Linked DNA regions of Homo sapiens: all the other regions are linked to region 3. Evidence: fine-mapped expression QTL. A gene starts in region 3. Each other region holds a variant in brackets. All regions are shown on one strand. Distances are between the middles of the regions. Region 1 overlaps INTS9 (integrator complex subunit 9). Region 2 overlaps EXTL3 (exostosin like glycosyltransferase 3). Region 3 holds the start of EXTL3 (exostosin like glycosyltransferase 3). Region 4 overlaps INTS9 (integrator complex subunit 9). Region 5 overlaps EXTL3 (exostosin like glycosyltransferase 3).

Evidence for each region. PIP is the estimated chance that this variant, and not a neighbour inherited with it, causes the effect.
Region 1: its variant is the best candidate, but not a certain one, in a credible set for the expression of EXTL3 in tibial nerve (GTEx, PIP 0.89).
Region 2: its variant is the best candidate, but not a certain one, in a credible set for the expression of EXTL3 in whole blood (TOPMed, PIP 0.82).
Region 4: its variant is the best candidate, but not a certain one, in a credible set for the expression of EXTL3 in whole blood (TOPMed, PIP 0.56).
Region 5: its variant is the best candidate, but not a certain one, in a credible set for the expression of EXTL3 in atrial appendage (GTEx, PIP 0.53).

What each region holds. Positions count from the first base shown.
Region 1 is chr8:28,768,124-28,774,372 of GRCh38, forward strand. It overlaps INTS9 (integrator complex subunit 9), which reads right to left. Exons shown (of 17, transcript NM_018250.4): 15 at 2,859-2,957; 16 at 1,766-1,903; 17 at 1-199. The coding sequence ends at 23. Among named protein-coding and RNA genes, the nearest start is that of EXTL3, 70 kb to the left of the region's middle. The variant G/A (reference allele first, on the strand shown) is at 3,520.
Region 2 is chr8:28,749,431-28,755,660 of GRCh38, forward strand. It overlaps EXTL3 (exostosin like glycosyltransferase 3), which reads left to right. Exons shown (of 7, transcript NM_001440.4): 7 at 1,227-6,169. The coding sequence ends at 1,436. Among named protein-coding and RNA genes, the nearest start is that of EXTL3, 51 kb to the left of the region's middle. RefSeq lists enhancers at 2,343-3,287, 3,288-4,230. The variant G/A (reference allele first, on the strand shown) is at 2,189.
Region 3 is chr8:28,697,636-28,703,884 of GRCh38, forward strand. EXTL3 (exostosin like glycosyltransferase 3) reads left to right here and starts at 3,866. Exons shown (of 7, transcript NM_001440.4): 1 at 3,866-4,024. It overlaps EXTL3-AS1 (EXTL3 antisense RNA 1), which reads right to left and starts at 3,829. Exons shown (of 3, transcript NR_126027.1): 1 at 3,725-3,829; 2 at 1,806-2,408; 3 at 768-839. RefSeq lists silencers at 3,605-3,784, 3,855-3,924, 4,025-4,434.
Region 4 is chr8:28,783,860-28,790,108 of GRCh38, forward strand. It overlaps INTS9 (integrator complex subunit 9), which reads right to left. Exons shown (of 17, transcript NM_018250.4): 11 at 3,970-4,030. Among named protein-coding and RNA genes, the nearest start is that of EXTL3, 85 kb to the left of the region's middle. RefSeq lists an enhancer at 6,063-6,249. The variant G/A (reference allele first, on the strand shown) is at 3,581.
Region 5 is chr8:28,734,917-28,739,916 of GRCh38, forward strand. EXTL3 (exostosin like glycosyltransferase 3) reads left to right here. Exons shown (of 7, transcript NM_001440.4): 5 at 2,603-2,747. Among named protein-coding and RNA genes, the nearest start is that of EXTL3, 36 kb to the left of the region's middle. The variant T/TA (reference allele first, on the strand shown) is at 3,035.

The DNA of each region.
Region 1 (6,249 bases), 70 kb after region 3:
GGAAGTAGCTCAGATGGCCCACTCAGAACTTCTGTAAGAATTTGAGGACAAGGTCCCGCAGTCGCACTCTGAGCATCTCGTCATTGTCGCAGATGATATGGGTCGAGTCTTCTTCAATCTGGATGAGCGTCTCAGCCTCCTGGAGCAGGACGATATGGCCCTTGGCTGTGTCCTCCACCTTAATATCACTGAAGCCATGCTGCTCCAGAAGAAAAGAAAGAGGTGGGCTGGGCAGACTGCACATCTGTGAGATCTGTAAATGACACTTCACAGACTCGACTGAACTTTCTAGAAACTGACACGTCTCAACACAATTCTTCAGACTAGTCATAGGCCTATGATAGTGATAGTTTCTTATACTTGAAAAGAGACCCTAAACATGCAAAAGCTCATGCAAAACAACAGAATTTCCACAACCTGGCTAAGCTTTTGTGAGTTCTTTGAGGGCACGTCCAAGCACTGTGTTCAGGAGTCTGGGACGCTCAGCTGCTTGCACCATGCCGTTCCCTGGTGACAGCTCCCTCCTAAGTTTCAGCTGTCTGAGCTCCCAGGAAAATGCCAGGTGACACCAAGATACCCCTGTGGGACTTGGCAGAGCCCTCTCAAGAGTGAAGGAGAGAAGGCAGCAGTGCAAACTTCTCAGCTATTGCTAATGCTAAGGACAGAAATTCCTTACAAATCAGACGTGACATGGAAAGGAGGCATGTGCCTGAAACAGACACACAGCAGGTGAAGGGCCTCGGTGTGGGGAGGCCACCTGTACTTCATGGCTGCAGGCTCCCCTAGGGACTTGGACAGGTGCTTGCTCCTTCTGCAGAGAGGAGCCGGGGTGGAACACTGGGTCAGGACATAGGCTGGGCCAGGCAGAAGGTCCTCATCTTAAGTTTTTAAAAGTCCAGCTTGAGGCCCATTAACAGGGCCCAGGAGCCCTGCAAGGTCTTCAGGGAGGGTGGAAGAGAGCCGCAACCACCCAGCCAGAGCCTTTTTCCCTACGGGAAAATCAAAGACAGGTGGAGAAAACCAATCCTAGGAAAGGGAAAGCCTTTAAGATTTGAAAGTCGGCAACTGTGATATTTACATTGGATAGAAAGTTCATAGAAATCTCCTTCCTTGTAATGATTGTAATTTGTTGCAGTTCTTGCAAGCAGCAGCATGAACAGTATTACCTTTAGCCAATTCCTTCTTCCTATCAAAGATTCTATAATCCTAATAAAGTCATCTCTGAAGTCCTGTGACTGAAGCCAAAATTACAACCTTTAAGGTTAGATTTTTTTCTTTTAATCATAGTCAAGAAATCTCATCTCTGGGAGAAGCAGCCATCAGGGCTGCTGAGACAGAGGGGAAGGGCCAGTGTCCCCTCCCCCGACTGCCTCCTGCAAATCCTGACAGTCGACTGGAGACTTGGCTCCCCTCTGACAGCAAGGAGTCATCTGTGGAAGTGCAAGACTCTGGCAGGGCCGGGTCCCTCTTTGTCCTGGCCTCACTACCCTGCCCCACTCGTCACATGTGTGTGTGGAAGCAGCTTTTTCTTCAGTCTGGAGAGGCCTTCTGGTGACCTCGTGCTGGGAGGAAGGATGGGGCACTCCTCACTCTGCTTTCTTTCTCCTGGGTCTCCCAGCAGGACCTTAGACCAAACAGATGCCACAGGACAGTGGGGACTAAGTGACAAGCAGCAACATCCACTCCCTGCAGCCAGGGGGCCATAGTGAGCCAGGGAAAGGCTGCCACGTGTGGAGTTTTCACGGCACCAGCGAAACCAGCTCACCTTCTCCAGGGTCTGCACGAACTGCTCCACAGGGATGGAACCGCTCAACAAAGGCTTCAGGACTTTGCAGTCTGGTACGTCATCGCTCACCCGCTTTCTCTTCTTCCCGCTCGTGGGCTGGGCGGGCCGAGGAGGGGGCTAGAGCAGAAGGAAAGAGTGGCTTTCATGAGCTTCCTCTGAGCAGCAGGGGCCACCGCAGGCCACACTGAGAGCCTGAGACTATCCTGTCCTCACAGGCCACAGAGCCCCGGCCCGGTTTCCTCAGCCGGCACTCGGTTCAGGTTCCCTGGCTGCCGGGAGCCCCAGATCCACGCGCTCTAATGCTCAACTGTCCAGCCTACCAACACCTTATTCGCTAAGATCTCTGCCTTCTATCAAGATCCATTTTTAAATTTTCAGGTGGTTCACTTCAGTATCTGCTGAGTAAATTCTCCAGAATACACTGTGTCGTGCTGCAGGTACATCATGACCCCGTGGCTGGGCACACTGGCTGTGGGGTCAGACCAAAGGGGGAAACCCCACCTTTGCCACCATCTGGCCAAGGTTAGAGAAGCTGCCTACGAAATGATGACAGCAGTGAATTCTGACGGCTCAGTAAGACAAGGCGGGTCAAGGACCCAGCACAGGGTCTAATAGACTTTAAGTGGTAGCTAGGAGCAACTCTACATGTGGCATAAAGGTGACACAGTCCAGATCTGAAAGGAATTCTTAAGACACAGTGCCTGCCCTGGAGCTGAAGTGCCACCCACCTGTGTGTGGGTCATTGGTAGGACCAGGCTCTCAGGTAGCCACAGCCTCACGCAGGTGCCCTCCGGTTCCAGCCCCCAAGGGCAGGGCTGCACCTGCCACCCTGCACGTCTCCCCACAGCCCTGCCTCGCGTGGCAGCGCTCCCCAACAGAATGTGCCTGTGGCAGCCCTTGGGATGACGTGCGGCCTCATCTCTGGGCACAGCAGCCTCTCTGAGGCACATGGCCAGGGAAATAATTCTTCAACAAGAATTCACATGAAGCGCTATTTCAAATATAATCTGTTAGGTGGTCTGGTTTCTTGCTGGGGAGAGGGTCCCCTGCACTCCCACCCAGCACCCCCTACCTGAAGCAAGTGCTTGTTATCTTTGGTGTGCAGCACGGCCGAGACAGTTGCCAAGGAGATGCCAGGCTTGATCTCCATGGGCACCAGTGAATCTGCGAGCTGAAAGCAAAGGGCGCAGTTCAGGCTGGGGGCCTTTAATGATGACCATTACTCTTCCTTTAATCTGTATTTACATCACTGCAGTCTAAAAAGATGAAATAACTTTAAAGGTAAACAATTTTTTTTTTTTTGAGATGGAGTCTTGCTCTGTCGCCCAGGTGACACACCAAGTGCAGCCTTTCATTCATTCTGGCCTTTACTTCACCCTCATCCCCTCTCCAGGTGACCAGTGGCAGGAAGGACGGGGACAGCAGCATGGCGGTTGAGGGAGCTCTCTCTTCCTGAAAGTCTGACTTCTCCTGATGGTGGGAGCCACGGCTTTACCTGGGGGGTGGTATCTTTCCGACCACCTGCACCTGATGGGTGCCCTGCCGTGCAGCCTGACCTTATTAGGTGCTCTGTTGCTGGGTTTAGCTGCATGGTTTTTAAGACATGTAGACCCCTACCTAGCCAAGCCACCTTTATTTAAAAACAAAAACATGCAAGAGGCCATTATGTAAACATGAAGATCAATACCAAACGGGCAGAGGAAGCAGCTTAGGATACTTAAGCAGATTGGCAA[G/A]TGGTACGTGAGGCCTGTTTCATGAAATAAGAAAACGGCCTATGGCGAGCGTGAAGCGGCCCTTGCCGAGGAGCAGGGTGTGCGCCAGATCCCGTTCTTCACCTGAGGCCTCCTCCACACAGGCCCCTCCTCCCTGCACAAGGCTGGGGTGGGAGCTTTGGGGATGGCGTTCTGCGCTCTCCCTGGGCAGCCATGCACTATTTCCAAGACGACTCTGAAGGAGTCTTTTTTTTTTTGAGATGGGGCCTCACTCTGCTGCCCAGGCTGGAGTGTGGTGGTGTGATCATAGCTCATTGCAACCTCAACCTCCTGGGCTCAAGTGATGTTCCCTCCTCAGCCTCCCCAGTAGCTGGGACTACAGGCATGAACCACCACGCCTGGCTAATTTATTATTTTTTTGTAGATACGGGGGTCTTGCTGTGTTGCCCAGGCTGGTCTTGAACTCCTGGCATCAAGTGATCCTCCTGCCTTGGCCTCCCAAGGGCTGGGATTACAGGCCTGAGCCAATGTGCCTGGCCATAATGTCCATTTTAAAGGCAATTACTGTAGCAAGTTGGATTGAGACAGTTACCTCCATTAATGATCAAAGACGTACAGTTTGGCTGGGTGCGGTGGCTCACGCCTGTAATTCCAGCACTTTGGGAGGCCACGGTGGGCAGACTGGAGTTTGAGACCAGCCTGGCCAATATGGTGAAACCCCATCTCTACCAAAAATACAAAAATTAGCTAGGATTGGTGGCATGTGCCTATAATCCCAGCTACTCGAGAGCCTAGGGAGGAGAACTGCATGCACCCGGGAGGCAGAGGTTGCAGTGAGCCAAGACTGTGCCACTACACTCCAGCCTGGGCAACACGGCAAGACTCCGTCTCAAAAAAAGACATAGGGCCGGGCACGGTGGTTCACGCCTGTAATCCCAGGACTTGGGAGGCCGAGGTGGGTAGATCACAAGGTCAGGAGATCAAGACCATCCTGGCTAACACAGTGAAACCCTGTCTCTACTAAAAATACAATAAATTATCCAGGTGTGGTGGCAGGTGCCTGTAGTCCCAGATACTCGGGAGGCTGAGGCAGGAGAATGGCGTGAACTCAGGAGGTGGAGCTTGCAGTGAGCAGAGATCTCACCACTGCACTTCAGCCTGGGCAACACAGCGAGACTCCGTCTCAAAAAAAGAAAAAAAAAGACATACAATTTAAAATTAGATAACAGTGTATACTTATATAACTGGAAAAGACTTGAATAAAATTGGAAAATAACTAAAAAAGGACAACATTCAATATTAGCAAGGAGGCAGAAGTAAGAGCTGTCTCCAGCTCTGCTGTGGGAGTATAAACTGTCACACTCATTCTAGAGGACAAGCTGGCAATATATAGCCTCGAGCCAGAAAGGGATGTTCATAATCTTTGACCCAGAAATTCTAACTTCAGAAAATTTTCTTATGGAAATAAACATATATGGACAAAGATTTATGTAAAAGGATGCTCCTAAAAGTGTTATTTATAACACAGAAAAACCAGAAATGAAAATCTGTGAAAAAAGGGGCCAGGCGCAGTGGCTCACGCCTGTAATCCCAGCACTCTGGGAGGCCAAGGCGGGTGGATCACAAGGTCAGGAGATTGAGACCATCCTGGCTAACACGATGAAACCCCGTCTCTACTAAAAATACAAAAAAATTAGCTGGGCATGGTGGCGGGTGCCTGTGGTCCCAGCTACTAGGGAGGCTGAGGCAGGAGAATGGCATGAAGCTGGGAGGCGGAGCTTGCAGTGAGCCAAGATCGCGCCAATGCACTCCAGCTTGGGTGACAGAGCGAGACTCCGTCTCAAAAAAAAAAAAAAAAAATCTATGAAAAAAGGAACTGTTAAATTATGACAGACCATTATGCAACCATTAAAGCTGAAGCTTTTGAAATATCTTTTTTTTTTTTCTTGAGACGGAGTCTCGCTATGTTGCCCAAGCTGGAGTGCAGTGGCGCGATTTTGGCTCACTGCAACCTCAGCCTCCCGAGTAGCTGCGATTACAGGCGCCTGCCACCACGCCTGTGGCTAATTTTTGTTTTTTTATTAGAGACAAGGTTTCATCATGTTGGCCAGGCTGGTCTTGAACTCGTGACCTTAAGTGATTCACCCCCGCCTCAGCCTCCTGAAGTGCTGGGGTTTACAGGCATGAGCCACCATGCCCAGCTGAAATATATATTTTTTGAGACAGAGTCTCGCTCTGTCATCCACGTAGGAGTGCGGTGGCATGATCTTGGCTTACTGCAACCTCTGCCTCCCGGTTCAAGCAATTCTCTGCCACAGCCTCCAAGTAGCTGGGATTACAGGTGCGTGACACCACGCCCAGCTAATTTTTTTTAGTGGAGATGGGGTTTCACCACCTTGGCCAGGCTAGTCTTGAACTCCTGACCTCATTGTCCACCCGCCTCGGCCTCCCACAGTGCTAGGATTACAGGAGTGAGCTACCATGCCTGGCTGAAATATCTTAAATGATATAATGTACTTACTGATAGGTGAAAAAGACGACAGTGTATGAGGTGTGATTCCAGTAGGCACACACACAGTGAACAGACAAGGCAAATACATCAAAATCTTAACATTTATCCCTGGCACTGGGACTGATTTTTGCTTTTGTCTTTATCCCTTAGTTATGTTAACATATAATAGGTTTGTATTATTAAGTGAATATTTTTAAAATGTCTTAGTTTTAATTTCTCATATAGCAAACATCAATAGA
Region 2 (6,230 bases), 52 kb after region 3:
AAGATAAATTTAAAGACACTTCTTCCCCATCTTTCTTTGTGAGGCGTCCACCCCTCCCTGCTCCCCTCCATGGAGCCAGTGTTTCCAAAGGCCCCCAGCCCGCTTTGCAGGTGTCACTTCTCCAGCCCATTTAAAACCCAAGTTCATGGCTATCTTGCAGGATTTGCTTTTTCATTGTTTGGCCTCTGAGGATTTCATTCATTCATTCATTCATTCATTCATTCATTCATTCATTATTCATTGTTTATTCATGCATGCATGTATGTATGTGAGTGAGTGACAGGGTCTCACTGTCACCCAGGCTGGAGTGCAGTGGTACCATCATAGCTCATTGCAGCCTCAAACTCGTGGGCTCAAGCAGCCTCCCATCTCAGCCTCCCAAGTAGCTGGGACTACACCAGATAGCTGGCCTGCTGCCACACGCAGCTAATATTTTTATCTCTTGTGGAGATGAGGTTTTGCTTTGTTGCCCAGGCTGGTTTTGTACTCCTGGGCTCAAGCGATCTTCCTGCCTTGGCCTCCCAAAGTGCTGGAATTAATCACCAGGTAATTTCATTTCTTATTACAGGCTCTGCCCTGTATTTAAAGAGATGGTTTATGTATTTCTTCTTGCATGTTCAGGTGTTCTGAGGGGTTTTTATGCCATTCGGCCTGCCACATTGTAATGAAGCTGTCCCTCTTCATACTTTTTTAGTTAGACATTTTCTAATTAATAATAATATGACTAGACTGTAGTATGGCCACTTTCCCATGGCTTTAAATGTAGTTAAGCATCTTTTTTATGGACAGTATTCAAGAATGATAGCCCCTCTTTGACTAGCCCCTCTTTGGGTAGTCTTCAATACCCAAAGCCCCTCTTTGGGTAGTCTTCAATATTTTGATTCAAAACATTGATGAAACAAACAACTCGGTACCTACCTATGGCTCTGCAACCAAGTACATACTAGGAGTAGACTTACTGAGACAGCTGACACTACACACGTTAAGGCTTTTGGCATCTGAGAAGCGTAGGCCATCTCAACAGAATACCTGACAATGTTCTGGAGACATCTGGTAGGCAGGAGGCCTGGGGCCGGGCTCTGGTTCCTGCCATGCTCTGCAGGGATGTTGCCCCTGAGGGGATCAGCGTCTTCACCATGGACATGGGAGTGTGGGATCGGCTCAGCTGCAAGGGTTCTGTCAGTATTAGCTGGGATTCCCACTCTGTCTCTCTCTCCCGTTTCCAGGTGACCTCACGGTGGACATTCCGATGCCCAGGATGCCCTCAGGCCCTGTCTCATGATGACTCCCACTTCCACGAGCGGCACAAGTGCATCAACTTCTTCGTGAAGGTGTACGGCTACATGCCCCTCCTGTACACGCAGTTCAGGGTGGATTCTGTGCTCTTCAAGACACGCCTGCCCCATGACAAGACCAAGTGCTTCAAGTTCATCTAGGGGCAGCGCACGGTCTGGGGAAGAGGATGAGCAGAGGGAGGAAGATGGCTCCCAAGGTTCCTAGGCATTGCAGGACCTTGGGCACATCTGCTGGTGGGTGGCCCAGAGCCTCTGCTGGAAGGGGCAGCAGGAGGAGTGGAAGGAAACCGCTGCCTTTATCTTGAAGTCAGCCACACTGGGCCTGGAGCCCTGGGCGGAGTCCCCGGGGTTCCCCACACAGGGCACTGACTGATAGCTTACACTGAGGACTGTGGCGACTCTGCAGAGTCACTCACACCGTTCGTACGCCCAGGACAGCTGGTTCGTGGTTTTTACATTCAATAACAACTATTATGATTATTTAAAAAGAGAAAGTTTCAGATTTGCCATTCAAGGCTTATTTATATATATGTGTGTGTATATAAATACATGCACACACTTGCATACATATATATTTTTGGCTGGGGGAGTGTGAGTTTTGCCTTTCTAAGGGAGGGACCGCGCAGGCTCCTTTGTTCTGTATTCTGGCGGAGATGGGTCCTGGCCTTGTGTCACTGGCTTATCCTTAAAGATCATCTCCCATCCTCCCCAGCGCCATCTGTGTGCAGCAACCAGAAAGGGATGAACTTGGCCCTCTTGCGGGCCTGGACAAGGTCTCTTCCTTACCCTTTCTGTTGCCAGTCAGCAACCTGTAACTCACATTCTCTTCCCAGTGAATCCCTGGGAGCGCCTGACCCTGGTGGGCTGTTCAGCTTCCTGCTGCTGGGGCCAGC[G/A]ATTTTTGAGGATTTATCTTTAGGCCAGGCTTGCCTCCGTACTTATCCCTGCTCTCCCATTTCTCTCTTGTTTGAGAGAGAATGAGGAAGCAAAGAGTGAGAAAGAATAGGGGCTGAAGACGCCACTCCCAGATGGCTCTTTCTATCCTGCTCTTCTGTTGAAACACACGTGCTGTGGGCCTCAGGCGTTTCTGAAGTGCTCTTTCTTGGATTGGACAGGAGATCAGCAGCGTGCACATCTGCTGTGGTCTGAAGTGGTTTGCAGGTCAGCCTCCTCTCCCTAGTGTAGAGCAAGCCAGTGTCCTTCGAGGAACCCACCCGGCTGGCCGGGAAGTTTTACAGCAAGGCGCCTGCCTTGGGATAATTCCTTGGTGAAATTCACCTTCCCCCCGCCTCTGTCTGGAGCCCCATCCTGTGTTATCTGTGGTTTTTGGACCCCTAATGTCAGCTTGGCTGTAGGACTCCCCGAGGTTTGGTATGTGCTAGAACAATGGGAGGCTGTGATTTGCTGTGTAAGCTCACATCCAGCCTTGGAATCTAACGGGCATTCACAACCCGAGTTACCACTTTCCACTCCCTGCTTAGGATTCTGTTCCCTGGGCTGAAACTGAAATAAGCTAATTTTTTGGGTCACGGTGGCAGTAGGGGAACCTAGGAGGGTGTGAGTGGCATTTGTCAGGGATTTAGCCCATGACGTGTTTCTTGAACCCTACTTTCTGGAAGTGGAGTTGACTCTGGAAGTTTTCTAGCAACTGAACAAAAGCTCAGGTTTGTCCTGGTCATGCACATGCCTTAAGCCAGTTCCGTCTTCCCTAGACCTTGGCATCCTGTGCTTCTATTTCTTGGAATACGTTCTCCTCTGACCTGCCTGTACCACGTGGGTCCTCTTCAAGTACTGTTTTGAAGCTGGGCTCTTTTGTGTAGCTCCCACCCACCTGTAGGGCTAGCTCGGCTTAAGGGAACTCTCCCCATTGGCAAACCGGACCCGGCCGCCGCCAGGACTGTGTTTCCAAAGGTTCCCCGCCCCCAACCCCAGCATCAGCCTGTAGCTCCCCTGCTGAGGCAGTGTGGTTATGTTCCCAGCAGTGGGGGTCAGACGCCCTTCCTCAGAACTTTCTAGTTGCCCTCTACCTGACTCCTGACTTGTATTCCTTTTAGCAGTAGCCTTCTTCCCTCGGGGAGCCAAAGAGTGTGGTGTGTGGCGCTATATTGTGGCTGCTATTTCATCTGGTTTCTTTTAATGTGAGGAACTCACATACTGACTTCAGTGGGACTCGGTGAGCCGGGGCCGTCTGTGTGGTGGGACCCCCTTTAGCGGGACTCAGTGAGCTGGGGCCGTCTGTGTGGTGGAGCCAGGGCCTCTCCCTTTAGTGGAGCCAGGTTGTCGGGCCCCGAATGTCACTGGTGGATCTAAGAAGGGCTGAGTGGTCTGACACCAAAACATGCCGCAGGGAGGGCTGTGGTGCCGGTGCTTCCAACAAGGACAGCCCTCCTTGACCCTGAAAGGAACACTGGCTTGAAGGACTGCAGACAGGCTCTGAGGGGCACGCCCTCCTCAGCGAGAGGCAGCAAGGTGGCCACAGTGTCACTGGTCAGGTGCTTCTCACCACGGGAAAGCCGCCGACCTGTGACTCGCTTGAGATGGGAAAGCGGCGCCACAGACCCCGGGTCTCCTTGGCTGTCTGTGGGCCGCCCCTGGCCACCTTGTCCTGGCTCGCAGGGTGCAGGAGCGCCTCGTTCTCTGGGTGGCCGGCTTGCTGCTCCGGTTTGGGCTGTCTTACCATAACACCGTCCCAGGGCTCTGCAGGCCACTGTGAGCGCTGGCTCCCTGGGCAGTGCTCCTCCGTGTGGACTGTGCCTCAGGCCAGGGCTCACCAGCTGGGGTCCTGTCCGGAAGGATGGGATCTTTCTGGGAGCTGCGCCGGACAGAGTGGGGAGCTCCTAGTTTGTGGGGGGAAGCTTTGATATCCATGCCACGTCCATCCACCCCACCCCTTTTCGTCACGAGCACAATGGTCTTACATTGGATTTTTGTAAAAAAATAAAAATAAATGGAGACTTTAACTCAAGCAGCTTGGAGGTCTTTTGTGGTTTTCCTCAGCAAGTATGGAAGAGTGACCTGAGAGAAGGCACCTGCTTGATTGCTTGATTCCAGGTCGCCACCTGTGTATGCCAGCTGGGCCTGCTCGCAGAAGACGATGGGAGGCAGCCTGACCAGGCCCTGGTGTGGGCTGTGGACCAGAGATGGGTGAACAGACTCACACTCACATGGGCAGCCTTGCCTGTGCCCGGTTCCAGGGCAAGTCATTTTGACAAAACAGGAACTTAGGGGCTGTTGAGGTGCTTTAAGCAGGATGTGGAAGGGCATGTGGCCCATATATGCAAAGTTAATTTTTTCATGGGAATTTAAAATGCGTGTGTGTGTGTGTGTGTGTGTGTGTGTAGTGGTTGTGGGGAGCTGTGTGTGCCTGCGATCCCAGGACAGGTGAGGCCTCACTGTGAATGGCTCGATTCGGTCCATAGGTCATGCCCCTGACCTATAGGTCACTAAGGCACCTGTACCTGCACCGAGCTGACGCTCCCTGACTGCAGAGCCCCATCCTGTTGGTGCCCACAGGCCTAGATCTTGTGCTTGGCTGTGGGATCAGAGGCTTCCTCAGGAGAGGGCACTGAGCTGTGGGCTTCGGGGAGAAGGATGGAGATGGGAAAGGGGGTAAAGGCGAGGACTCCTCTCCTGGGCTCTGCAGGTGGCAGCTTTGGTCACACTGACAGTCCTAAGAATGGGTGAGACTTAACAGTCGGTGTCCCTCCTCAAGTGGGGTTCACGACTGATCAGGCAAGTTTGCAGCAGCTGATGGGTGAGATGTCATCGAGGGGCATTCCTCTTTGGGTCTGGAGTTTTGGCTGTCAAGCTCCTGTTCTTCCAGCCATCCATCTCCATGTTACGATTGTCCTGGGACCAGAGAGACTTGAGAAGGTGGCATGAGGCTGTAGAAAATGTGTCTTCCTATACACAGAGATATGATGTCTGCTTTGAGTCTATACCTGTCGAGTTGTGTCTTGGACTTACGGTCTGCCAAGGTGGTAAATGTTAGCTGTTGATGGGATCATCACTGAAGTGGAAGGCTCCACAAGGTTTACAAAATGTGTTAAGAAGAATGTTGATGGTGGTGTGTGGTGCCTAACATCTTAATCTCAGCATTTGGTGAGGCAGAAGTGGGAGGATCACATGAGGCCAGTTCAAGACCAGTCTGGGCAACATAGCAAGACCCCCATCTCTACAAAAAAATTAGAATGTTATGAAGATACTGAAAAGAAGAAAGGAGAATGTAGTGGGTAAAGGTCTGGGCCCTGGAACAGACTGGGTGCAGATCTTGGGCTGCCCATCACACTGGTGGAGAGCAAGTTATCTATTACTATTTTAGGCTCTAATCCCACCATACGGTGGCAAAAGTTGTGCCCATCTCTTAAGCATATGTTAAAAGTTAAATAATATAATATACGTAGAGTCCACTGTTTGACACAATAAAAATGAACTATTACTGGAGTAAAATAGTGTCCACTTCTTCATGGCTCTTTCTGCCTTCCGCTAGGTTTGAGCGCCAGCGCCTGGCTGAGTGCCCTGCTCACCTCCTATTAGAGCCCCCACGCTCTGTCGCCTCACCATGCTGTGTGCTGGCCACTGCTCTGCCTCCCACACCGGACTGCAGCCTCTCAAGAACACAGGAGTTCCATAGTTTTCTCATGAATGAATGCTTTGACAAAGTGAAGAGGGTCACTTAGAAATCACAGCTTAGGCAAATTGTTTTACCTTTCTTCATCTGTCTTGACGTTTATGAAAGAGTACAGGCTGGGTGCGGTGGTTCACGCCTGTAATCCCAGCACCTGGGGAGGCCAAGGCGGGTGGATCACCTGAGGTCAGGAGTTTGAGACCAGCCTGGCCAAAATGGCGAAACCCCTTCTCTACTAAAAATACAAAAATTAGCCAGGTGTGGTGGCACGTGCCTGTAATCCCAGCTACTCAGGAGGCTGAGGCAGGAGA
Region 3 (6,249 bases):
ATCAGCCTGGGCAACATGGTGAAATCCCATCTCTACTAAAAATAAATTAGCTGGGCATGGTGGTGTATGCTTGTATTCCCAGCTGCTCAGGGAGGCACGAGAACTGCTTGAACCCAGAAGGCGGAGGTTGCAGTGAGCCAAAATCACGCCACTGCACTCCAGCCTGGGTGACAGAGCCAGACTCTGTCTCCAAAAAAAAAGAAAAAAAAAAAAAAACTACATACATGACTGTTAAACAACAAATGCAAAACTATTTTGGATTCAGTTTCAAAATACAAAGTAGAGATAATAAGTGCTGTAAAATGTCAAAATATGGAGAGATCAGTGAAGACTCACTTCATTGTGCATACTGTTGCCTTGGCTTCCTTCTTGGGGACAGCTGCTGTGAATGTGACCATATTTTCCAAGCCAGGATTTCAGTGTTAAGGGATGGGCCAGGAGAGGAGTTATGGGGATTTGGGAACGAGAATGGGATGTAGGTGTGAAACTGTAGAGGATCAGTGGTAGAGATCCTACAAATAAAGCCTTTAAGTCTTGGAAACTGTTGAATGTGAAGGTAAAGAGAGAAGTCAAAGATGATGCCAGGTTTTGAGTTTCTGGGTTAGGAAAGATAAAGGTAACTATTTTAAACAAGGACATTTGAGGAGTGCAAAGTGGGAAGGGGTAAAGATGAGTTCAGTTTGGGATATATTAAATTTAAGGCCCTGGTGAGATAGCCAGATGAGCACACGAGTTAGGAAGATTTGCAGTCCCGTGTCCTTTGCTCCATGCTCTGTGGTGTTGGACACCTTATTTAGCTTCTTGAAGTCTCAGCTCCCTATCTGGCAGCCGATACTTCCCTGTAAGGATTAAAGTGAGACAGTGAATAAAAGGGTTTAGCTTATTGCCTGGCAATTAAGTATCAGAAAGTATATATTAATAGGGTGATGAAGGCCCCGCGTGGTGGCTCACGCCTGTATCCTAGCACTTTGGGAGGCCAAGACAGGCTGATTGCTTAAGCTCAGGAATTTGAGACCAGCCTGGTCAACATGGTTGAAACCCCGTCTCTACAAAAAAACAAAACAAAACAAAAATTAGGCCGGGCGTGGTGGCTCATGCCTGTAATCCCAGCACTTTGGGAGGCCGAGGTGGGCGGATCACTTGAGGTCAGGAGTTTGAGACCAGCCTGGCCAACATGGTGAAACCCTGTCTCTACTAAAAATACAAAAATTAGCTGGGCACAGTAGTGCGTGCCTGTAATCCCAGTTACTCGGGAGGGTGGGGCAGGAGATCACTTGAACCCGGGAGGCAGAGTTTGCAGAGAGTCGAGATCATGCCACTGCACTCCAGCCTGGGCAAGAAGAGTGAGACTCCGTCTCAAAACAAAAACAAAAACAAAAAACAAAAATTAGGCACAGTGGAAGGGATCTATGGTCCCAGTTATTCCAGAGGCTGAGGCGGGAGGAACATCTGAGCCCAGGGACATCGGGGCTGCAGTGAGCCGTGATCGCACTACTGCACTACTACACTCCAGTGTGGGCGACAGAGCAAGACCCTGTTTCCAAAAAATAAATAAAAATAGGATGATGATGATGATGTGAGGGTGTCCAGAGTGCTACTGGGCAGCAGGGCCCCAAGCTCTGCTGTAAAGGACCAGCTTGCAGGTGGAGATGATGCAGGGAAATTGGTTGAAATTAGCAAGAAGAGAGTGTGAGAAGGAAAAAAGAAAGTAGCCCCAGTCATATCATTGGCAGAGAACACAAGGTAGGAGAAGGAACAGGAGCTAGAGGAGACTGAGACAGGGGAGCAGGAGAGTGCAGACTCACAAGATCAAAGCGGAGGGGGGCTCAGCAGCAGGTGAATATCCCTGTTCTTCCTAAGGCTTCATAATCTTTTTGTTGTTGTTGTTCCCTAGATGGAGACTTGCTCTATTGCCCAGGCTGGAGTGCAGTGGTGCGATCTCGGCTCCCTGCAACCTCTGCCTCCCGGGTTCAAGTGATTCTCCTGCCTCAGCCTCCTGAGTAGCTGGGATTATAGGCACGCGCCACCACGCCCAGCTAATTTTTGTATTTTTGGTAGAGACAGGGTTTCACCATGTTGGCCAGGCTGGTCTTGAACTGCTGACCTCGTGATCCACCTGCCTGGGCCTCCCAAAATGCTGGGATTATAGGTATGAGTCACGGCGCCTGGCCAGCTTCATCATCTTTAAAAGCAAGTAAGTCAAAGTTAAGGGCAGCAATGTGTTAAGTTACTCCAACGTAAAAGACTGAGTCGAACAGGTAGCAGGTAACTGCACGTCCTCTCTCGCCAGTGTGGAGATGAACCAAGGCCTGGTAGTTCTTCCCTGTCTTCTGTGGTGTCTCCTCCCACACTGCCAAGCCCCTGCCTGCTGTGGCCGCGTACCTTTGGAGGAGAGCCAAGTAGAGGAACTGTTAAAAAAAAAAAAAAAATTATGATACCCAGGCAACACTCACTCCATTTTCATTTCCTGCAATACTTCTGATTTTTAAACTTTGCCTCCTCCTGTCTTGACTTCAACAAATTGGTAACAGTAAGGGTTGCATATGTACACATATGATGGCGGTAAGACTTGGAAAGCATTTGTTTATAATAATCAAGAGGAAAGGAGAAGAAAAGTGAATAGGAGACGGGAGAGCAAGAGAAAGAGGATAGGAAAAGGAGGATCCGAGTCGGGACTAGTTTGGGGGTGGAGAGATGAAGAGTGTGCTCTAGGAAACAGGTTGCTATGGGTTTTTAAAGGTTTGTTTTGCAAACGTTATCCTTAGCCCAAGCTGTCCCCCGTGGGCATCAGTCTTCAGCATTTTCTCAGCCTCCTTGCTGGAGCACTGGGCCTGGGCTCCAGCAGAAAGGGCGAGTGGATAAGGTCGGCAGCTGCGAGCCTGTCTCTGGGGTGCAGTTCTTCTTAAGGCAGCCGACCACCCAAGCGCAGGGCCAGGAGCCAGCTCTACCCGGCTTCTCCAGGTCCTGTGTGTTTGGGGTTCCCTGGCGAGGAAACCCTGGAGTAGAAGCCCTGTGTTCTGGGTATTAAAAACATTAAAAAAAATACGTTAAGACAAATTTGATCGTAGCTCATACTGCAGTTACAGGTTTTAAAAGCTGGTTTCTAAGTTAAGCAGGTGACCAGGTAGGGTGCTTGCTCCCACCCCCATCCCCTGTTCCATTATCCAAGGGGTCTTATCCTGACTTCTCAAGTGTGGAAACACACAGTCACGTGTTCCTTGGGACTGTGGAAAACGTGCACTTTGGGGCTCACAGGGGCTGGCTTTTCAGCATTGACACGGTGTTCTTCTTTCCTGTCTTGTTTTGGTGATCATCCCACACGACTAGATTAACCTGTTGTTTTTGCAAAGCCCCAGGATTTTCCTAAGCGTCCAAGCCGCCCGGCCTTGTCTTTGTTATGAAATAGTCAAAGGGCTTCAAAACTGCAGGCAGTTGCCGCGCACGGCGCCCGTCCTTGGAGGCCTTTTCTCTGAGAATGGAGTTTTAGATTCAGGGATTTATGACTTGACTTTCCCGGGGCCGGCGCCCCTGCGGAAGCGGCGGTGGCTCGGGAGTCAGACCCGGTTCCCACGCCGCCGGGAGCATCCTCCCCGCCATCTGCGGTCGGGTCTTCTCGACAGGGCCCGGCGGCCTTTGCAGGACGCGAGTTGGGGGGCTCCGAAGGCGGCCGGCGCGCCCCCCCGCGCCTCCCACAATCCCCGGCGCCCGGCCCCGCGCCCCTGACCCGGGTGTCACCGCGGAGCTGCGGGAGGCCTCGGCGGTCTTCGGACGCGGTCGGGAAAGTGGCGAGCGCGCGCCCGCGTCCGCGCCCCCGCTCGCGAACGCCGGCTTCGGCCATTTCCGGCGCGGCGCCCTTCGGCAAGTTCCGCAGTCGCCTGTCGGAAATGGCTGCCGGCCGGCAGGGGGAGCGGCGGATCAGGCGCGGCCTGGAAGGCGGGCGGCCGGCAGCCAGAACGGCTTCTGGGACGCCGACTTTCGCGCAGGCGGCGGCGGCGGCGGCGGCGGGTCCCTGAGCTGGAAGCCGGTAGGACTGCTGGCCGCGCGTGAGCCCGAGGAGCGGGGGCCGCGCCCGGAAGGGCTCATGGGAGGGTGCCGGGGCTGGCCCCGAGCGCTGGGGACGCGGCGGGAGGGACCGGGTCCGCCGTGCCCCGGGGAGGCTGCTGCTGCCCGGCGGCGGGAGGCATGCAGCCTCCGAGCGGAGTAGGCCTGCCCGGTGGCTCGGGGGCCCGGGGAGAGGCCGCCAGGCCCTCGGCCGGCAGCCGGGAGGGCTAACGGGTCCCTGGGCTGGGGCACCCCCTCCCCGCCCCCACACGCCCTCTCTCGTCCCAGTTTGGGCTGCTCGGGACCCGCCTCCACCTTTTTTTGGACGCTCGGCTGCAGCTGTTGGGCTTCCTCTGCTCCCTGAAGCCCTCCACCCTCTGTGACCCGCGGCGTTTCTCTGGCTGCTGGCCCGGAGCATCTTCTGTCGGCGGAGGCGCAGCTCCGGACTACCCCCACCCCTTCCCGAGCACACCTTCCCACATCTGCCCCCCGCTTCTACACGCAGTCGCCTGCTGCCCTCCCCGCTGGCTCTTTTTGCCGGGCTCGCCTCCTTTCAGGAGCCACAGTCAGAGGAGCCGCTTCCTGTCCGAGGGTCCAGGTGCTGCAGGACCCTGGCTCCCAGGCCCAGCTCCCCTAGAGCCGGCCTCGCGCTGCACGGGCTGGACCGGACAGGGGTGCGCGGGGCGTGTGTGCGCGGCGGAGCTCCGAGCCCAGCGACGGGGACAGCACCTATTCCGAGCCCCTCGGAGGCGAGCCAGGGCTGCCCGGCTGCTGATGGGTGCTGCTTTCTCTTCCCCACATTGAGCGAGAGCTTCGGCTCCTTTTATTAATAAAATCTGTTTGGCTCTCAGAAGACTTAAATTTTGTGGATTTTGCCCCTCCCCCGCCACCCGCACCACCCCACCCCCGCCCTTCCCCGCAACCTGGATTTTTCTTCCCTTTTTAAAAACTCTAAAAGCTTCATCAAGTCCTCTTGGTTCGACTCCTTTGGTGGAGGAGGAAGCGCAGAACACCACAACATGTCCATTATTTCCCCCATATGTGATTTACTTAAGAGTCGTCTTTAGCATTTCTTGTCACTTTGTCCTATTCTTTGTCCAATTTAGGTAGCTTCATTTTTACTGGCAGAGCTCCCCGTGCTTTCTTTTGTTTTTAAAGGCTTTGTGTGTTGCAGCCATGCAGACTCTGCAGTTTTCTGTATTTTGTTCGGCAGTGAGTCCTGCATTCTGATACAGTGACTATCGCTGTGACCTGTGTGCTGGGATAGTAACTGCGGGGCACAGAGTCTGGAGCGAAGCGAAGCCTTCTCAGCGACTTGCTATTTAGCAGAGGGACTTTGAAATATTTTGTGATGAAAGAAAAACCGTTTTCTTAAACTGTTATTTGATGTGTTAAAAATACCTTATCCTGTGGGAATTTCCCATTCGTTTGCTTGTGGGGAGCCGGAGGAATCATAAGAACTCACGAGCAAGAGAGAATCGAGCCTAAGTGCTTTCTGGAAGAGTCAGAATTGTGGCTCTTCAGACTTCCGGAAACGTGCTTAATGTCCAGAGATGTGAGGGGCATACCTACCTAAAAAATGATTGACAGGCGTATGTCTGTATCCCTCCACTTCTCGCTTTTCTAGTGGGGGAAAACCCTGTTAATACTTGGTGTGTAGTTGGGATCTTTCAGTGATTAGGCCTCAAGAGTTTTGACCTCGGAGTAAAAAGATTTTAAGGGAACAGTTTGGAGAGAAGTAAGTCGGGCCAGGCCGAGCATGGGAAATGTATTTCTAGGAGAGAGGGCAAGTCCAGAGGGTGGTTTGAAGCCAGCAGAAGACTAGAGAGAGACCTGTTCTTTTCCGCAGGGCCCTAGGCCAGCTGTGGATTGGAGGGTTATGGGTGATGAGGGGCTGCAGGAGTGATGCGGAGTCCTTGTCTCAGTTGAGACTGGTGGTCTTCTGGAGGAGGGTGGGAGGGATTCCCTGATGTAGACTCAGGTGTTAGGAGAAAAATGAAGTCCCATCAGACCTACTCTTGGTAAAGGTTCGAGCGCCTTTGTATGTTACTCTAGAGTGAGGCGAGGAATATGAAACCAGGACGTTTCATAACGTCCTAAAACTGCCTACTCCATTCGCTGGTTATTAAGTTTAGCTCAGAAAACTTCTATTAACATATTTCTATTTTATTTTTGTTACCCCTTCATTTCGGCAACTATCATTTCGAA
Region 4 (6,249 bases), 86 kb after region 3:
TGTATCCTAAGATGTCAAGATGATGAATGTGATTCTAAGAATAGCAGCAGGTCTCTGCACACGTAAGTCACTTTTAAGCATTATCTATAGTTCCTGTAGCTCTACTGATCAATGCACAGAAACTAAGATAAATTCATCGTTTTTTGCCAATTGGATCTACCTTTCTAGCCAACTTACTGCATTTGACCAGTGGAAATGAAGCTGTGGGGCAGGAATTCTGAACAGTAATTTGTTACCAGTACTAAGGGTGGAACCACCGTTTCTCATGGGCATTGGTAACATTACCAAGGGTTGACTCCCTCATGCCCTAACAACGACAAGTGCACCTGAGGAACCCTCATGGTACGACCACAGTCTACTCACATTCCTAACTCTAAATGGCACCAGGTCATTTGTGACAGGTGTGTGAGTGAGAATGTGATCACACTCCTAGAAAACAAGCTCTACAGCAAGGCTGACTGCAAAGGAAGCAAAACAGACATTCAAGAGCAAAGTCCACCACAAGATGTTTTGCCACACTTAATTTTCTGACATTTTTATAATATTTCTAGCCTGTGTTTCACTATGGCATTGACACAGCTTGCAAAAACCCTGGCTGCCAAAATACTATTTAGACTACAGGGACCAAAAAATAACTTCTTCAAAACCTTCTACTTGGCATCCTGGTTCATAAAAGACCTATCCTTTACAGTATGAAAACAGCAATTACATTTAAAGTAATTAGCAGGACATTTGTTGAAATACGTGTTAGTTAACTATAAAACAAAACAACTAAATCCCTAAACATATCTATCTGCACTGACATGCTGTAAGTAAAAACAGTCTACCTGCCTTAGTTGAGGAGGGGTTATAAATATGACAATCAAAGAAATGAGTGTGGGGAGATAATCGCAGTTAACATGGATGTATTATAACAGTACAACCATCAAAAGCAGGGAATGAACAGTGACACAACACTGCCCCCTCTCATCTACACACCCGATTCAGACTTTACCAACTGTTATCAATGCTCCTAATAGCAAACAAACTAGATCTTTCTTCTTCCATTTCCAGATCCAGCCCATGGCCATGGAGTACATCTATCTGTCACATCTCTTCATTCTCTCGGCAGTTCCTCAGTCTTCCCTTGTCCTCTAGGTCTCTGACATTCTCAAAGGGTACAGGTCAGTTATTTTGTTGAGCATCCTCGACTTGGGTCTGAATGCTCACTAGATTCAGGTGAAGCATTTTTAGCAGCAGGATCACAGAAATCATGCTGCTTTCTCAATAATTTGTGTTAAGAGCCACGCAATGTCAGTTAGTCCAATTACTGGTGATGTTAACGTTGACTGCATATGTCAAGTTTGTCCAAACTCCAGTTACTATTTCTGTCTTTGTAATAAACATGACTTTTGTGGGGACATACTTTTTGGGACTATAAATGATCTAGTTCTTCATAACATTTTCACCCACTGGTTTTAGCACCCACTGGTGTTTCTTGCAGGAATAAATTATTACTGCGGTGGCTGCCAAATGGTGATTTTCTAATTCTAAGGTTCTTTCCTATGTTAACTATGAGTTTACTGTTGGAAGAACTTTCCCCTCTTGCCTATGTACTCAGTTACCTCACTATGGATGCAGGAGTTTCTGTTATTCAGTGGATTATATTCATTACTAGCATTATTTATTTTGATGTTCCAGTGACCTCAGATGTGGCTTCTGACATGTCCCCATCTTTCTCTGAGCATACAGCAAGATCTTACAGCCTCATCTTGTATTTTCCAAAGAGGCCTGGTTCCTTTTAGTGGAGAATGGTATCTAGAAACCAACATGTGGGAGCTAAATGTGTTCCTCAGTTAGTGGCATGTCACTGCTCCCAGGCCCTCTGTGTGGCCAGAGCTGGAAGATACGTATGTGCACAGACACACACATACACACACATGCACAAGTGGATTTCTTTCTGTATCTACATATATTGAAAATAGGAGTTCACACCAATACCATCAATTCTATCCAACAGCACAGGATTCATTCCAGCCTTCACTCTTTCCTTATATCTAACTCTGTACACCTTGATGGATTTTTTACAAGGTGAACACATGTACATCAAGAAATAAAGCATTACTAGCTCCTCAGAAATCCCTCTTTGTCCCCTTCCTGTCACTACTGTCCCCTCCCCTCCAGGATCACTACCACACTGGCATCTAATACCACAGATCAGTTTATTGTGTTTTTGAACTTTTATGTAAATAAAATCATACCATATCTACTCTTTTATATCTGGATCTTTCACTCACATTATGTTTGTGCAGTTTATCTACACTGCATATAATTGGAGCTTATTTGTTCACAGTGATGTAAGGGACTGTGTGAGTATACCACAAAATCCATGCTATTGTTGATGGGAATTTGAGTATATTTCAGTACTATTACCAAAAATTTTAGATTTTTTTTTTTTTTTGAGACAGGGTCTTGCTCTGTCACCCAGACTGGTGTGCAGTAAGTAGCACGATTGCAGTTCACTGCAGCAGCCTCGAACTCCCTCAGCTTCAGGTGATCCTCCCACCCCAGCCTCTAGGGTAGCTAGAACTACAGGCATGTGCCACCACACCGGGCTAATTTTTTGTATTTTTTTGTAGAGACAGGGTTTTGCCATGATGTCAAGGTTGGTCTCAAATTCCTGGCCTCCAGTGATCCTCCCACTTCAGCCTCCCAAAGTGTTGGGATTATAGGTGTGAGCCACCGCACCTGACCAAATTCTAGATTTGTGTGTGTGTCTTTTGGTAACATCTCTATGCATTTCTGTTCAATGTATACTTTAGGAACAAAACTGCGGAGGCATAGAGTACATTGTTCAGCTTTAGCAGATACTGTCAGTTTTCTTTTTTTCTTTTTTTGAGACGGAGTCTCACTCTGTGACCCAGGCTAGAGTGCAGTGGCGCGATCTGGGCTCACTGCAAGCTCCGCCTCCCAGGTTCACGCCATTCTCCTGCTTCAGCCTCCCGAGCAGTTGTGACTACAGGCACCCGCCACCACGCCTGGCTAATTTTTTGTATTTGTAGTAGAGACGGGGTTTCACTGTGTTAGCCAGGATGGTCTCGATCTCCTGACCTTGTGATCCACCCGCCTTGGCCTCCCAAAGTGCTGGGATTACAGGCGTGAGCCACCGAGCCCAGCCAATACTGTCAGTTTTCTAAGGTGGTGATACCAATTTAGAGAATCTTTGAGTGAAAATATAACCAAAAATGAGGAGTAACTATTGTCTGTTAGCTTCATTGTAGTAGAGCAATAATAACATGAGACGCAGAAAAACGTTCATAATATACCCTTGGGTGAAAAGAACCTGACAACAAAGCTAGGTATTCAGCTATATAGAAAACACCCATTTGTTCTGTGAGGGAGGAAGAAGCCTTTTATTTGTTGAACTGAAATGTTATTTTCGTCACTAAAAATGTACATATATGACTGACATAACTGGAAAGAACACTCTGACAATACATAAACCCAATTTAAAAAGGTAGTAATATGTATCGAAATACAATTCATCATGCAGTCAGTAGAACAGAAGCAGGCTATGAATTGCATGAACATGGTACAGGCT[G/A]AGCATCCCTAATCCAAAATGTTCCAGTATCTGAACTTTTTGGGCACCAACATGATGCTCAAAGGAAATGCTCATTGGAGCATTTTGATTTCAGACTTTCAAATTTGGGATGCTCAACCAGTAAGTATATTCCCGAATCCCAAGTCTGAAACAATTCTGCGGTCCACAACATTTTGGAGAAGGGCTGCTCCACGTGCGCAATAGAAAGTGTTAATAGGAGGAAAGCAAGTGAAGCTTGAGTTAAAATACTTCCCTGTGTCTGACTTGGGAGGCAAAGGGGTCTACAGGTTTACACAGCAATCTATTTCATCTAACGACCTGCTGTCTGCATCTGCATCAGGTTATCCACATTGCTTCCTTCCCATGTCCCAGTGATTTTGTTTTCTTACCTCTGCATGAGGAAAAGGTGGTTCTGGAAGATACACCTTACTCTGTTTGTTGTGACAAAGCCTATTAAAGAGGAAAAACACATCAGCATGTGAGGAAGAGCATACGGTGGCATCTGTTGCCACCTAGTGGCAGCAGTGCAAATATTAAATACTGAAGTTTATTTAAAAATTTCCCGCCAGTGAATTTCACTGTGAATGAAATCCAGTGCCTACAGAGAAGAGATGTATCTTGTATGTTTTTAAACTTTAGAATTTCTCAATACATTTTTTCTTAAAATATAAACTTGTTATTTTGGAATAATTTTAGATTTAAAGAAAAGCTGCAAAGACAGTACAGAGTTTCCATGGCCTCTTCACCCTATGTCCCCAGAGTTAACATCTGATATGACTGGCACAGTCGTCAACTAAGAAATTAACATCAGGCCAATGACAATCAACTAAACTCCAGACTTCATTCAGATTTCACTAGTTTTTCCAATCATGTCCCTTTTCTGTTCCAGGATCCAATCCGTGGTATCATATTGCATTTAGTTGTGGTCAATTTCACAAAGAAAGTGATCTACACCTTGAGACATGGCTTCTGTTTTTGTCCATGCACTTTTTTTTTGGAGACAGAGTTTCGCTCTTGTTGCCCAGCTGGAGTGCAATGGCGCGATCTCGGCTCACTGCAACCTCCACCTCCTGGGTTCCAGTGGTTCTCCTGCCAAAGCCTCCCAAGTAGCTGGGATTACAGGCACCTGCCACCACACTCGGCGAATTTTTGTATTTTTAGTAGAGACGGGGTTTCACCATGTTGGCCAGGCTGGTCTCAAACTGCTGACCTCAGGTGATCCACCCGCCTCGGCCTCCCAAAGTGCTGAGATTACAGGCGTGAGCCACTGTGCCTGGCCCTCACACTCTTTTTAACAGCAGCATTGGTAACTCCAACTAGAGAAGAACAAAGGATCACAGGCTAGAGACAATGTGAATGTTTTTGGTAATTTACATTTGCTTTTTCCTAGTCAGTTATGACTTTACAATACTGAGATGTCTGGATAAAGCAAATGTGGCAAAAAGTTCACAGTTGATAAATCAATATATGTGGGTGTTGTGCAGGTTTGACATTTAAAAAAATAGTCACTACTTTGAGGGGAGGAGCTCAGGACTTCAGGGCTTGGATTTTGTATTAATACATTGTATCTAATTTTTCCTACCCTTAGTTTCGTTTAAGTTTGGTTTAAAAAAACATCACTTTATACCCTACTTGGAAGATATAAATATGGAAGAGCAAGATGCTTTTGGAGGGTTACCTTATATTATCTAAATAGACACTAGTTCTGTCTTTATTTCTAGCTCAGGGAGACAAATATAAGAGCTTGGTTCTAAACTTATTTTGATTGTTCCAAAGGACATTATCCTACATGCATTAAAGGCAGAGATTAGGGATACAGAAGAGATTACAATATGATTAGAGATTGTGAAGCCCACCTACATAATGCTTAGGCCAGTTCTGCTAACAGATCCTCCATACTCTGCTCTAGAATCCTCATGCAGGCACAGCAGACAGGGACCCACCCCCTTTCTAAGACAGAGGCTGAAGGACCTGATTAGAGTTTGCTTCTTCTGGGGGTAGCTGTTAGAGTTCAAAAGGAGATCTGTGTATACCAGATTATCAGGAAGAATGAAGAATAAATGGCGCTTCTAGGTTTATCTCTAATTGGGAATGTGACAGACCCTCCTGCTCCCTGATGGCCAGACCTCAGGTACCGCACACTCTTCCACTGCTTGTTCAAAAAAGGATCAGAGCCAGGCACTGTGGCTCAGGACTGTAATCCCACCACTCTGGAAGGCCAAGGCGGGCAGATCACTTGAACCCAGGAGTTCATGGGTTCAGACGAGATGCAACCTTGTCTGTACAAAAATTAGCTGGGCATGATGGTGACACCTGTAGTCCCAGGTACTCAGGAGGCTGAGGTGGGAGGATCGCTTGAGACCAGGAGGTTGAGGCTGCAGTGAGCCGTGATTGTGCTACTGCACTCCAGCCTGGGCGACAGAGTGAGAGCCTGTCTCAAAAACCAACCAACCAACCAACCAACACTCCAAACCCCAACACTCCAAACTCCAAAAGATCAGAGAGGTCTTTCAAGAGCTATTCCCTCCCATCTCCATCCCCTGCAAAAACAAAACCAACCCAAACAACCAAGCCCCTTAGCTCGGAGCAAGGGCAGACACTGGACAGCAAGGGGCTGGGCTTCTGCAGGCATCAAAGCAGGACCATGTAGAAGCCAGAGCAGAACCCCT
Region 5 (5,000 bases), 37 kb after region 3:
ATCTGTCTTAAATCCATCTGTAAAGAATGATTTGACACATTTCTGAAAAATTAGAACATCTGTTCTTATTCTCCCCCACCCAGCCTCTCACATTTCCTTTGACCTCTTGCTTAGTGTATTATTGAACCAAGTCTATTGACAGCTGTGATTAAAAAAAAAATCCTGGTAAACCGAGGTGTATTTTTTTTACACGATAATAGTAGCTGACTCTCTCCACTTGTTTTTATGAAAGGAAAAAAGCCATGCAGTAACTCCAGGCATGATCTTTGCTGCTGCAGGTGGTAGTGGTGGGGGTGGGCGGTAGGGAGTGTGTTTATGCTGCAGCGTGATGCAGTTTGGAGCGTGCCGAAGGACTGGCGTGGTGAGCATAGTCGTGGAGTGTTAACAGGAGAACTGCCAACCCTTAGATCCAAGAATGATTTTGATAAGGAGCCCAGCTTTAAGGAGTTTGAAGCCTATTAACATAGCTGGCATTAACATAGCTTCCAAGCCCCTGATTTAGGGACTTCTTACCTTGCCCGTGCTATTTTCCAGCAGATTTGCAGGTGGTGAGAGAATAATGGGAAGCCTTTTAATGTGTCTCTTAACTGTCATTCATGTTTGAGATTTAGCCTCTGGTAATGGAGCTGGTGAATTATCATTGCTGTCTATACATCCTAACCTTTTCCTACCCTGACCCTTTTCTCATGCATTTGGGCATCCTTTGATCTAAAACCTTTCTCTTATTAATCTCCCCAATTTGCTTATTTCACCTTAATGGGAATGAAACAGACCTAAGTTCAAAGGAAAGGGTAAGTCTAAGAATTCTTTCTTCTGGCAAAGATAGATCTTGACTCACTTCAACTTAGGTAGCCAAGAAAGAGGCAGATACAATCAATCATAAGGGACAGAAAAGGTATACCAAGAGACTTGAGAGCATGTGTCCATACAGAAAGGAATACACAAATGGCCAGAGCAGCGTTATTCGTAACAGAAGTGCAAACAACTCAGAGGGATAAATACTGTGGTTCCATTATGTGAGGCCCCTAGGTAGTCATTCATAGAGACGGAGAGTAGAATAGGGGCTGCCGGGCTGTGGGAAGGTGGGAGTGGGGATTAGTGTTTAATGGGGACAGAGTTTCCGTTTGGGAAGATGAAAGAGTTCTGGAGATGGATGGCAGGGATGGTTGCACGACACTGTGAATGTCCGTAATGCCACTGAACCATACATTTAAAAATGATTAAGATGGTATATTTTATGTTTGTTTTGCCACAATTTAAAAAAAATCAGTTGTCTAAAAAAACCCACCTAGAAGGCTGTTACATTGTGATAGAAGTTGTGATTTCTCCTCTTTTGGATTAGATTAGATGCTTCTAGACTTATTAGGAGAGGAACTCTGTTGAAATAAAATCTTCTGTGTCTTAGGAACTGAAGTTCCATGTAAGTGATGAGGGAGTTTGCAGGCAGTTTAAATCTCTGGCAGCCTTTCTGCAGGCCTGTCAGGTCCTGTGGAGCTTAAACGCTTTCAGTTCTCCAATTTATCCTGTGAAACTGGGGACCAATTTTATTTGTTCTAATTTACCTATAAATTTGGAGATGATATAGAAGTTTCTACTGAAACATACTGAAGTCTCCATTTATTTCTTCCATTTAATGAAACCTTTCAGTTGTATGGTTCTGTAGGCCACTTCTCATCATACATGTTTCTCCGTCAGCCCTGCTCAAATTTGGAATTAGGAGTGGTGCAGTTCAGTAGTCTTCTGTGGTTAAACCAGTGCTCTCTAAACCTTTTTATTATGTTCCTTCTCTGTAAAAGAAAAGTGTGCAATATATGTAAATTACATACATGTCCTTCTGAACTAATATGTCATGCTTATTAAAAACAAAGCCTTTCTTAGAAAATGCTTGTTCATTCATTCATTTTTAGAGCCAGATCTTGCTCTGTTGCTCAGGCCAAGGGAGGTGGTGCAATCATAGCTAACTGCAGCCTTGAACTCCTAGAATCAGGCAGTCCTTCCACCTCAGCCTCCCAAGTAGCTGGTAGTACAGGTGTGCTCCACCATACCCAGCTAATTACAAACAAAAATTTTTTTTTGTAGAGACAGGATCTTGCTATGTTGCCCAGGCTGGTCTCCAGCTCCTTGCTTCAAGCAATCCTCCTGTGTTGGCCTCCCAAGTGCTGAGGTTACAGGCATGAGCCATCCCACCAAGCCCTTTCTTGGAAATTAAATAAGCTAAAAAAAGAATTGAAATTGATATCATCTTTCTGCTGCTTAGTAGATTATTGTATATACCCCATTCTGGAGCCCTCCTTAGTAGATATTGTACATACCCCATTCTGGAGATCCCCTTTCCAAACTTAGGGCTTATTCTTTCTGGAAGGGCTGGAGGATGCTGACTGCTAGAGGGACAATGTGCAGGTGCTTATTAAGGAAGCTGAATATGATACCTTATTTGCTTTTATCCTGTTTGGCTTGTTGTTGATTTTGTTTTATTTTGAAAGGATACGAGAAGTAAAAGCCTAAGGGCCAGAGCTTGTAAGGTGGAGGCAATAACTGTGAACACTTCTGATGACCCTAGAGCTCTGTATTCAGGTCTGTGTATGCACTTGTGTTTTTCAAGGGTGTGGAGAGAAGCTCGGGACCGCATCGTGGGCTTCCCTGGCCGTTACCACGCATGGGACATCCCCCATCAGTCCTGGCTCTACAACTCCAACTACTCCTGTGAGCTGTCCATGGTGCTGACAGGTGCTGCCTTCTTTCACAAGGTAAGAAAAAGCTGGTAATAATGGCATCGACTTGGTGAGAGTTTCACCTTTGTGTGGTAGCGGAATGCTGCCCTCAGCTTAGCTCTCCTAACGCTTCTTACATGTTTCTTTTGTGCTAGAAGTCAGTTTTTTCTATTTTTACAGACAATGATCAAGATGCTTAGAGCAACTCTGGGATAAAAAGTCAAGATGAGAGGGCTGCCTGTACAGTTGCACATAGGCCATTTGGAAACCACTTTATCTTTCTGGGCGTTGGCTCTCCGTTTGTAAAACTGAGGGCACTGGGC[T/TA]AAAGACACCTCAAATACCTTCCAGTTTTAACACTGCCACCCTAGATATGGCCCAGCCATCAGAAGGTGACCTGGGCACTTTTCTGACTTAGATATACCATGCCTGTCCCGGGCCCCACGATGAGCCTCTGTGTGGCTCTGCCAGTTCTTTGTGATGCTTTAGTGCTTATTACTTTCACTGTGCCTCCTAATCTGATTTTCACTGAATATCTGAAGCTTAGGACCCTGCAGTCTTTCCTCCTCTACTGTTCTGTATTCTGTTTTTTTCTCCTGGCCCATCTTCCCTCTCTACCTCTTCCATCCTGTAAAGTGGCCCCTGACCACAAGTGGCTGCTGATCACCTGGTGCATGACTGGTCAGAATGGAGACGTGCTGTTCAGTGTAAAGTGCACAACAGCTTTCAAAAACTTGTAACAAAGGGTGTCAGATAGCTCAGTAATTGTTTGTGTTGATTGCATCTTGAAATGCAGTTAGTTTGGATTACTGGGTTAAATACAGTTATTGATTTTTACTGTCTCTTTTTACTTTTTAACGATGTAGCTTCTAGAAAGTTTACAGTGCTGTATGTGGTTTGCCTTCTGTGTCCGTGAGTGCCGCTCTCTACCTCCCTCCTGAAGTGTTCCCGGGCCCTGAGGAGTCCCTGTTCTAAGATTACCCTGGCATTACCCCCACTGCCCACCACACAGAGCACCTCTTCTGTGCCCTGAGTCTTCTCTGAGGACAGTGCTCCCATTAGCCTTTTCCTGTAGACTTTGAGGCACTCATTTCCCCACATCTGTGCTTTGGCACAGGGCAGGTGTAGGGAACATTTTCATTGCTTACCAATGACACTTCCCTCCCAGCTGTCACATAAAGTCTCATTTGCAGCTCCTGTCGTCTGTCTTGCTGCCATCAACCAGCCTTTTCATCGTGCCCTGACAGTCACCAAAGACGGTGGCACCTGCCTCCTTCTCTTTGTCTGCATCCATGCCCTCCATGGTTCTGGTGCCTCCACTGTCCTCACGGAAGACCCTCCCACCACTCTCTCTGCATGAATGGTGAAGTGTCCCGGGGTCTAGCCTCTGTTGCTCTTCTTATTTTCCCTAGGCGTTCTGTCTCACACACAAGGTTTTGAGGCTTTTCTTAGCATCTGCAGGCTGGTAATTTCCTCATCTGTATTCCAGCCTTGGCCTTTCTTGCTGAGGTCTGCGTTTGTATATTTCATTGTTTCCAGCATATCTCCCGTTTGTCCCTCAGACACTTCAGGTAAACTTTTCCCAGGAAAGCTCACCGTCTCTCCCTAGCTCCTTGAAGTCTTTTCTCCCTTACATATCTCCCATCTCAGATGGTGGCATCTTGCCAGTCACCTCAAATAGAACAATAAAATTCATTTTTATAGGGACTTTTTTAATTTTTTAAGACAGGGTCTCACTGTCGCCCAGGTTGGAGTGTAATGGTGGGGTCTCAGCTCATTTTAGCCTCCACCTCTTGGGCCCAGGTGACCCTCCTGCCTCTGTCTCCTGGGTAGCTGGGACTACAGGCACGCATCACCACACCTGGCTAATTTTTTTTGGTAATTTTTATAGAGATGCAGTTTCGCCATGTTGCTTAGGCTGGTCTCGAACTCCTGGACTCAAGCGATCTGCCCGCCTTAGCCTCCCAAAGTGTTGGGATTACAGATGTGAGGAACCGTGCCTGACATATAGGGACGTTTGAACCAGCCTAAGCAGTCGTTAAACTTTCAGCTGTTCTTTTTCTTTTAAAAACTTAATGTGTGAAGTTGATACACTCATCCCATTCTTGCACTTCACCTCAGGACTTCCTTTCCTTCGGTGGGCCTTGTTTGGACTGAGGATTGCAAGTAGAGTCAGAGGATTAGGGTGTCAGCAACTGGCCAAGATTTTCACACTTGCTCAGCTAAGAAGGAGCCACTGATCTTAGCAGCGTCTACTCATACCTTGAGGATGTACTTATCTTCTGAATTGCC